Homo sapiens: one gene and its partners. The protein of the gene in region 3 purifies or fractionates together with the protein of the main gene of each other region. This does not show direct contact. Each region holds a gene or a part of one and is shown on either strand. Other genes may lie near its edges.

Region 1 (2,882 bases), on a different chromosome or scaffold from region 3:
ATCATGTTTATAAAGCAGTTTAGTTATGGTGATTTAGCAGAATACAAAGCCAGAAAATGTGTCACACTTATACCAAATTAAGGATGTTGAGTTATATTACTAATGTATGCAACTTTAATTTTGTTTAACGCTATCTGCCAAAATAAATTTTATTCCCTCTGACTTAAAAAACAAAACAAAACAGTGATGCTGTTTTTTTTTTTTTCCCTTGTCCCCACAGTGAGCGTCACCCTGGACCCACAGTCGGCCAGTGGGTACCTGCAGCTGTCAGAGGACTGGAAGTGCGTGACCTACACCAGCCTGTACAAGAGTGCCTACCTGCACCCCCAGCAGTTTGACTGTGAGCCTGGGGTGCTAGGCAGCAAGGGCTTCACCTGGGGCAAGGTCTACTGGGAAGTGGAAGTGGAGAGGGAGGGCTGGTCTGAGGATGAAGAAGAGGGGGATGAGGAGGAAGAGGGAGAAGAGGAGGAGGAGGAAGAGGAGGCCGGCTATGGGGATGGATATGACGACTGGGAAACGGACGAAGATGAGGAATCGTTGGGCGATGAAGAGGAAGAAGAGGAGGAGGAAGAGGAGGAAGTTCTGGAAAGCTGCATGGTGGGGGTGGCTAGAGACTCTGTGAAGAGGAAGGGAGACCTCTCCCTGCGGCCAGAGGATGGCGTGTGGGCGCTGCGCCTCTCCTCCTCCGGCATCTGGGCCAACACCAGCCCCGAGGCTGAGCTTTTCCCAGCACTGCGGCCCCGGAGAGTGGGCATCGCCCTGGATTATGAAGGGGGCACCGTGACTTTCACCAACGCAGAGTCACAGGAACTCATCTACACCTTCACTGCCACCTTCACCCGGCGCCTGGTCCCCTTCCTGTGGCTCAAGTGGCCAGGAACACGCCTCCTGCTAAGACCCTGAGCCCTGACATCTGCCCCCAGCCCCAACCCTCAGATGCTTCACTTCTTTGGAATTCCAGGACTCTCAATGGGGGGACGGGATGCCTGGCCTAAGCACCTGGAGCAGGGGACCCCATATCCACTGGTAGCCACCTCCCCATTGCTGTGGCCCCCTGAAATCTCACTCAGTGCTGTTGCTCCATCTACTGCCCTAATGGGGCTCTTTTCCCACCTCCTGCTGGTTTCCCGAGGGAACTTCTGACCCTGGAGTCCATGAGGGCTCCTTTCCTTTTTGACCACGACCTTGGCCCCAGCTCTGCACTCTCTGGAATAAGGGCCCGATGCAGCATTTTCTTGCCCAGTGTGGCAAGACCTCAGAAAAACCAGTCAATTACGCCTAAGATCATTTTGCTGTCCTTAAACCCCCCAGGTTCCTTCTTGCACAAATCCACTCTGCTGCCCACCTTCCCTGGCATTTTAAACAGACCTACCCCACCCCAACTCAGAGTTAAGCATACATGGCAATGCTGAAAATAAACAAAATCCACTGAGGCTTCCCAGGCCATTTAAAGCCTGGAGTACCAGCGCATATCATCTCATGGGGTCCAGAGTGGAGTCCAGGCTTCTCTGAAACCAGGGCTGAGCATATTTCCATAGCCAAGGAGGTGGGACTCCCTGGAGCTATCTGTGGTCTTAGGGAAGGATCCAGACATACACGGCTTTGGGGTACAAGCTGTGATCACTGATCAATAAATTATCTCTAGATTGGTCCTTGTGAGGGGAGTTTTAAGAATCCAGAACATCTTGCTCTTGATCAGCACATCCAAAAACACCAAGACAAACATCCAGTGGAGCAGAACCTCTCCTGCCTCGGGAGTTCTGACCGGGTTCCCCAGCAGGGTGTTAAGCCTCTGTCTCTGGCCCTACCAGCATCCAGGTTCCACTTTCCTAGGAGAGAGTGGAGATGGGAAGACAGGGAAAGGAAGGCAGCAGGAGGCCACAAGCCCACCAGGTCTTCATGTCAAGAGAGGGAGTAACATGTCTTCTCATTGCCCACGGACCCAACCTCTGTCCAGGTGCCCCTCATCATCACAGTTTAACACAAGCTCCCCTGCTCCAGCCAAATTGATCTCCCAGTCTTGTCCTTACCCATTCCAAGTGCTCTGCCAGCCCCTGTTCATCCAAGTTTTAAGTCCTCCACCCTGTTCTAAGAGACTGTTCCAACGGCTCTGGGCCTCAGTGGTCACTTGACCACCATTGTCTCAGAGCTGCCCACTTTGTGTGTGTCACATGCTGCCTGAGTCACATGTACATCTTATTTCTGCCTCTAGTTTTGTAAGCTCCTGGAGGGCGGATAACATCTTATACTACTCTTGTATTCTCATGGCACCTAGTGCAGTGCTGGGCACAGAGTAGGTGCTCAATAAAGACTTGTTGAATGAACAGCCTGGAGATCTGTATTTGTAGGTCTATATCTATATTATATCTCAAATGCCACCAGACCTCAGTCTGGCTACAGAGAAATTCCACTGATAGCAGTAGCCGAAGGTTTTCCTTCTGTGCCTTCTGTAACAGTGTAACTTTGCTTTCTGTTCTCTGCACACATGCTGTCATTTCTGGAAGTCCCTCAAAAAGAGCCTACTGCGGAACACAGACGAGTTGTTGCGTGGCTCCACCTTTTTATTCCTCCTGCAGTGGTGCCCTTGAGCTGAGGTCCAGCGTTTTGGAGCAAGTGATGACTCTCCCTGAGAAGGGAGACCTCCAGTATAGCACACCCAAAAATTCTTCCTTGGAAAATAAGCACTGCCTCAGAGGAAATAGAATGTGCAGAGATTCAGCCTTGCATCCTAACACAGTCAACTGTTTTTCTTGTCCTTTCTGATTTTTTTTTTTTTTTTTTTTTTTTTTTTTTTTTTTTTTTTTTTTTTTGAGATGGAGTCTCACTCTGTCTCCCAGTTTGGAGTGCAGTGGCGCCATCTCGGCTCACTGCAAGCTCTGCCT
Region 2 (3,656 bases), on a different chromosome or scaffold from region 3:
ACACCCGGCCACATTTTCTTTTTTTTAATAACAATCCATTTATGGTGGGAGGAAGAACCGACAATTAGGAATAAGAAGCTGAAGGTTCTACTCTCATGTGTGCTACTATTTTCTCATGATCTTAGGCAAATCAGCTAAGTACGTGCAGAATCAATTTCCTCATTTATAAAACAAATTATAATCAATGCCAGTTATCACAACATGCCTATAGTTCTATGTATATAAATGCTTTGTAAATGGCATTAAATGGTACAAAAATGTAACTATCAGGGAAGAAAACAAACAGTTTAAATTATAACTTTTTTTTTACAACTATTTTGGAAGAGTACTTAAGGTAAACAATCATTCAACAAAATATTTATTGAGCACCTACAATGAGTCTTGCTCTGTTGCCCAGGCTGGAGTGCAGTGGTGCAATCTCAGCTCACTGCAACCTCTGCCTCCCGGGTTCAAGCAAATTCTTATGCCTCAGCCTCCTAAAAAGCTGGAATTACGCCCAGCTAATTTTTGTGTTTTTTTGTAGAGATGGGGTTTTGCCACATTGGCCAGGCTGGTCTCGAACTCCTGGCCTCGAGTGATGTGTCTGCCTTGGCCTCCCAAAGTGCTGGAATTATAGGCATGGGCCACCGTGCCCAGCCTGAAAACAGAAACTTTTTAAATGCTTTTTTTTTTTTGGTAAATTACTTCTTCCATGATTAGAGGGACTATCTTCAAAGTAGTACAAATATTTCGTAAATAATATCTGACCATTTTCTAACCAATTGAGTAATTTGTTGCACAATAAGCCATCTCACATCTTTCAGCAAGAAATACATTAAATTTGAATAGTAAAGACATTACACAATTAGGCTTAGGACAAAATTAAAATTTGCCTGAAGTATTTCTTTGGGGGAGAGGACACCACACTTCTACTCAAGGAAGAGAAACATTTTTACAGTCCAGAGGTCTTTTATTTTTATCTTTATTTTTTATTTTTTTGAGATGGAGTCTCGCTCTGTCGCCCAGGCTGGAGTGCAGTGGCACAATCTCTACTCACTGCAAGCTCCACTTCCCAGGTTCACGCCATTCTCCTGCCTCAGCCTCCCAAGTAGCTGAGACTACAGGTGCCCACCACCACACACAGCTAACTTTTTGTATTTTTAGTAGAGATGGGGTTTCACCACGTTAGCCAGGATGGTCTCGATCTCCTAACCTCATGATCTGCCCGCCTCGGCCTCCCAAAGTGCTGGGATTACAGGTGTGAGCCACCGCGCCTGGCTATTTTTTTTAAACACTATTATGCATGAATTCACAGAGAAGAGGTTCCAGCAGCTCAGACTTCTTTCCCTTGGTTTTCACACAGCGCGCTTCTCTGGGTGGAACAGGCTGGCACTTCAGCTAAATGCAGGTACCTTTCTCTTTGGCTTCCTTCTTTTTCTGATCATTTTCCTTCATGTGTTTCAGGAAGCTATCTCGGCTCTTAGAGTGCTTAATGTGCTCAATATGCACATTAATTCTCTTGGTAAGAATCTTGCCCTTGTTTGTTTACAACAATGCCATTAGCCACGCGTGGTGGCGTGCACCTGTAATCCCAGCCACTCAGTGGGGCTGAGGCAGGAGAATCGCTTGAACCTGGGAGGCGGAGGTTGCAGTGAGCCGAGATCACACCACTGCACTCCTGCCTGGGCGACAGAGCGAGACTCTGTCTCAAAAAAACAAAAACAAAAACAAAAACAAAAAAACAGCAATGCCAACAGCCTGCTGGGTAACACTGTAGACTCTTCCAGTTTAGCCACGGTAACACTTGTGGGGCATTCCTTTTTGAACAGTACCCATTCCCTTAATGTCTACAGTATCACCTCTCTTTTAGATTTGCATATACGTGGCCAAAGGAACAACTCCATGTTTTCTAAAAGACCTAGAAAACATCTATCGGGTATCTCTCCTCCTTTCCTTTGGATTAGTCATTTTGGCGAATTACTAGAAGATTGGTAGTTCAGGCCAAAAGGCAATGCTGACTATTCTTTATAAGAATACAAGATAATATATTCCCTCTATCAGTCTTGACAGTATAGTTGTACATTTTCAACTTACATAACATAAAAGCATACTTATTCTAAAAACATAAAAAAAAGGCTTCTTACCTTGAGGCGCCAAATGCTGTACATGTGAAATAAAGCTGTCTAGTTTCAAATGGTATTAGAAAAGGACATTTGCTGGTTAATTGTTCACACCAGTCTGGCAGAGCCCCACTTGCCAGTGCCAATGGTTCCTGCGAATTAACAAATAATAATGTCTTAGTGCTATAAGGCATTCATGCATGCATGCATTCATTCATTCGTTCATTTTTTTTTTTGAGACAGAGTCTCACTCTGTTGCCCAGGCTGGTGTGCAGTGGTACGATCTCGGCTCACTGCAGCCTCTGCCTCCTGGGTTCAAGCGATTCTCCTGCCCTAGCCACCCAAGTAGCTGGGATTATAGGCATGTGCCACCGTGCCCAGCTAATTTTTGTATTTTTAGTAGAGACTGGGTTTCGCCATATTGGCCAGGCTGGTCTCGAACTCCTAGCCTCTAACGATACACCCACCTTGGCCCCCAAAATGCTGGAATTACAGGCATGAGCCACCACACCTGACCCTATAAGGCAATTATTAAAAATTACCAAGTCAATTATAAACCTGTAATTAGGAAATAAATGCAAAGGACCATATAGCTCAAATTACCAATCAGAGGGAAGGGAAAGATGGTGAGAGGTAGAAAAGAAAGTAAAGGGAATATTAGGAAAAGTCCAACAGTAATAGAATGAAGAGTTCAGCTGTCTGATTTTATTACCTCAATCTGCTGTAATATTTTTGTTGTAATTTTTTTGCTAGTGAATTCATCTGGTGGAAAAGTAAACTGAGGCTGTTCATCACCATCTATAAAATTAATTAATAAAATTAATAAAAATATAAACTGACTTGCTTTAAAACTGCTATAGAAATGAAACAAGGCTTCTTACAGACCTTCCTGGGATATTCTTGAATAAGGGTCACTTGCAACTATATATAGAATACGCAGAAGCTGAAGGACATCTTCTACTCCACAAGAGTTCTGTCCATTGCCTGCTTTGGCCTGAGGTTGTTCTTTTGTTAAATTAAGAATATCACTACTTTGAAGAGTAGAAATGGCCCCCTGGTTTAACCCAGACTTTGTTCCATGCTCACAAAAATCCTATAGAAACAATTAGAAAAACTGGCCATTAATCACATTTTCAAGAAAAACAGTGTATCATTGTATCAATACCACTATGAAAGGGTTGGAATTTTTTAAAGTGCCTTCTTTTTAAATAAAAACATAACACAAGACATAAATCAAGGCATTCTAAACCATTAAAATTCCCAAATAAAATATAACCACTCTAAGCCATGGTCAAAGTCTGCATTCAGATCCAATGCTACCAGCCATATTTGAAATTTTAGAATTTGTGCATTAACAGTGTTAATTCAACCTCATTTTTAAAATTATGTCTCAATGAACTGCTGTTCCTTAAGAAGCTTCCAAAGCTGCAAAACAAAGCACGAAGCCATTTGCAATCAAAATAGTGTTTTGATGCCAATATATACCTTATATGCAGCTATGAGCTGAGAACAATTTCTGTTTTTCCTAATACTTTTATTAGTGCCAGTTAATTTCCA
Region 3 (3,656 bases):
ATTTCATTCCTTTACATTTCCAAATAAGATTCCATTGTATGAATATGCCACAATTTTTCTGTCCCTTTACCTGTAGGAGAGCTTTTTGGTTGTGTGCAATTTGGGGTTAGTATGAATAATGCTGCTGTGAGCGTTCATGTGCTAATTGACAATATGAGTCCTTGTTGGTGGGTGACATCCCTGGCCACCCTTTCATGTCTCTTTTTCTGTCTTCATGGCACTTTCCAGGCACAATTCTGCTTTCCCTGGAACTGTGTCATTCAGGACTCTGCAAATTCCCTAAAGTAGGAGGAAAAATGACCATGTCCAAGGTAAGTAGGACTTGCCTCTCTTACTGTTAAAATTCCATCTCACTACTCAGATTGTTGTGTGTTTTTCTCTGCCCTGGGAAGACTCAAGGAGAACAGCAGGACTTTGAGGATCTCTTGTCACCTGGCTAATTTTTGTAGTATTAGTGGAGATGGGGTTTCATCATGTTGGCCAGGCTTGTATCGAACTTCTGACCTCAAGTGATCTGCCCGCCTCGGCCTCCCAAAGTGCTGGGATTATAGGCGTGAGCCACCGCACCCAGCCAGAAAGCCTTCATTTAAAATGGCTAGTAATACTGGGCTGGGTGCAGTGGCTCACACTGGTAATCCCAGCACTTTGGGAGGCTGAGGCAGGCGGATCACCTGAGGTCAGGAGTTCGAGACCAGTCTGACCAACATGGAGAAACCCCATCTCTACTAAAAATACAAAATTAACTGGGCATGGTGGTACATGCCTGTAATCCCAGCTACTCGGTAGGCTGAAGCACGAGAATCACTTCAAACCGGGAGGCGGAGGTTGCAGTGAGCTGAGATTGGGCCATTGCACTCCAGCCTGGGCAACAAGAGTGAAACTCTGTCTCAAAAAAGAAAACAAAACAAAAAAAGTCTAGTAATACTGAAGATTGGCCAGTCACTTGTGTACTGTCACTCATTTACTTCTCAAAGCAGCAGAATGAGGAGGTTCCTGATCTCTTCTCCTAAACTCATGAAATATGAGAAACCTGCTCAAAATCAGAGGCAATCAAGGAACAGGAATGTTAGCCATTCTGCTCAAGTGAAAGAGAGAGACGAGAAGAAAGAAAAATTCTCCACTGAGGGTCTGGTGACCTGTTGTGTGGATGTCTGGAGTGCTCCCTTGAGTGATGACATCCATAGGTGGCGCTGCTTCTCCCTGTCCTGCGTTGGTGTGACCTCTTCTTTTCCAGACCTGGCACCTACTCAGGTGTACTCATTGTTCCAAGTACCCAAGGACAGTGATTACCACAGCTGTTCTTATCTCCAAATTCCTCCTTATGGCACAAGATACCTCACACATTTTTTCTTTGGCTGGGCGCGGTGGCTCACACCTGTAATCCCAGCACTTTTTCGGAGGCTGAGGCAGGTGGATCACTAGGTCAGGAGATAGAGACCATCCTGGCTAATATGGTGAAACCCCGTCTGTACTAAAAATACAAAAAAAAAAAAAAAAAAAAAATTAGCCGGGCGTGGTGCGGGCGCCTGTAGTCCCAGCTACTCGGCAGGCTGAGGCAGGAGAATGGCGTGAACCCAGGAGGCGGAGCTTGCAGTGAGCCGAGATCGCGCCACTGCACTCCAGCCTGAGTGACAGAGTGAGACTCTGTCTCAAAAAAAAAAAAAAAATCCCTAAATTCCTCCTTATGGCATAAAATGCCTCACCATTTTTTTTTTTTTTTTTTTTTTTTTTGAGATAGAGTCTCTCTCTGTTGCCTAGGCTGGAGTACAGTGTTGCGATCTCAGCTCACTGCCAGCTCTGCCTCCCGGGTTTACGCCGTTCTCCTGCCTCAGCCTCCCGAGTAGCTGGGACTACAGGCGCCCGCCACCACACACCCGGCTAATTTTTTTGTGTGTTTTTAGTAGAGACGGGGTTTCACCGTGTTAGCCAGGATGGTCTCGATCTGACCTCATGATCTGCCTGCCTCGGCCTCCCAAAGTGCTGGGATTACAAGCGTGAACCACCGTGCCCGGCCCGCCTCACACATTGTTACCAGAAAAAATGACAACCTGGGGCAAAAATATTTACCCCTTGGATAGTTAAGGAAGAATAAATCCAGAATAAGAATCTTCTAAAAGGATAAAGAAAAAAGTTCAAACAGATTGGAACAAAGAATACTAAAAGGCAATTGTAAAAGAAGAAATAGAGATCGCCAATAATCTTGAAAAGTGGTGATACTCATTTATAATAATAAGTGAGAATGATAGAATGAATTGTTCTTCCTAATCAGATTACAAAACCATGGGAATATTTATAAACTGCTCTTGGCTATCATAAGGAGAATTAGGGTACTTGTATTCTGTTGAATGATTAGAGAGGTAGGGAAAAAAGTGAGAAGAAAGTATGCAATTATATAATGATAATATTAAATGTGCTTATTTTTCACATTTTAATTTTCATATGAAATTATTTTAAATGAGACAGAGTCAGATGTTCTTACATCTTACTACTTACCATATCATCTTGGCCGGACTGATAATGGAAAATATGTGAAATTAAATATTTATTATTTAGTGTAGCTAAAAATAGATCATCAGTTCCCTGGAATACTATGGAACCCTGAAATAGATAATGGTAATAACAGTAATAAGTAATACCAGCTAATGTTCATTAAACAGTCTGTGCCGTAGACTTTTCAAAATACCGTATATTTCTTTTCTTAATTCTTGAAAAAACTCTTGTCATGTAAGAACTATTATTCAGAGAGGGAACAAGCCTTGTAGGAAAACATGTCTGAGGTCACATGGTTAGAAATGGGCAGACTCTCAGAATGTGCACTGAGGCATTCTGGCTTCTGATCAGGACACTAAATGCTGCAATAAGCATATGTGGTTTGTGCCTTGCGAGTACAGAAGACACACTGCATAACTGTCTCAGGGTACCATGGAGCAGGTTCACTGTGCACTGATTACCAACTCGTGTGAGTCCTGTGGGACAGAACACATTCACACGCAACAGATTGCATGAAGCAGATTTATTACTACAGATTGGCAGCAGGCGAGCCCAGAAGCCTAGGGTCCAGTATGAGCTGGCCATCCAGGGCTCAAGAAAGCTACCTGGAGCAGATGGAATCTTGACTGTATGTGCCCCACTTGCACCAGAGCTGAGGCACCCCAGAAGGTAACCTGCCCCCATTTATATACTTCAGGGTGCCATGACTCATGGAGAAAAACTTGAAGGTCATCTTCCTTCCAGGTGAGAGAGGAACAAAGCCCAGACTGTCAAAGGCAGTTCCTCCCCATAATATTGCATTCTTAGAATAATCTACAGTTATTCTTGAGAACTACAAGCAATAAAGGGGAGAGAGCTGGGTGGGGTCTGCACCCCAACTGTCCTGCAGTCCATCCCCTGACCCAGATATCCCTCTTAGCAAACTGGTCCATTTCATATGTCCATCGACCTCCCCTGGCCTCCCCTGATCTTGTTAGATCAGTGTAACACCTTGACTGACACAATCTCTGCCAACTTCATGGAATTATAGCTGGAATACATTCCGTGGACCCCAGAGGAGCATGACCACAAGCAGCACAGCCAGACCTTCCTGAAGTAGTAATCCTGCCCAGGTCCCAGTTATCAAAATAAGAAGCTGCTGAAGATACCAAAGAAGAATCATTCAG

What was found.
Region 1: the proteins of ZNF223 (region 3) and TRIM26 purify together in Homo sapiens (affinity purification with mass spectrometry; 2 studies listed by BioGRID and IntAct, with this or other methods). This does not show direct contact.
Region 2: the proteins of ZNF223 (region 3) and HECTD1 purify together in Homo sapiens (affinity purification with mass spectrometry; 2 studies listed by BioGRID and IntAct, with this or other methods). This does not show direct contact.

Annotation. Positions count from the first base shown.
Region 1 is NC_000006.12:30,183,897-30,186,778, reverse strand, and holds the end of TRIM26 (tripartite motif-containing protein 26), read left to right. Parts: intron 1-220; coding exon 221-903; 3' UTR 904-2,324; downstream 2,325-2,882.
Region 2 is NC_000014.9:31,110,293-31,113,948, forward strand, and holds part of HECTD1 (E3 ubiquitin-protein ligase HECTD1), read right to left. Parts: coding exon 3,585-3,656; intron 3,193-3,584; coding exon 2,985-3,192; intron 2,898-2,984; coding exon 2,812-2,897; intron 2,252-2,811; coding exon 2,124-2,251; intron 1-2,123. UniProt on the Homo sapiens protein: E3 ubiquitin-protein ligase which accepts ubiquitin from an E2 ubiquitin-conjugating enzyme in the form of a thioester and then directly transfers the ubiquitin to targeted substrates.
Region 3 is NC_000019.10:44,054,881-44,058,536, forward strand, and holds part of ZNF223 (zinc finger protein 223), read left to right. Parts: intron 1-228; 5' UTR 229-296; coding exon 297-311; intron 312-3,656. UniProt on the Homo sapiens protein: May be involved in transcriptional regulation.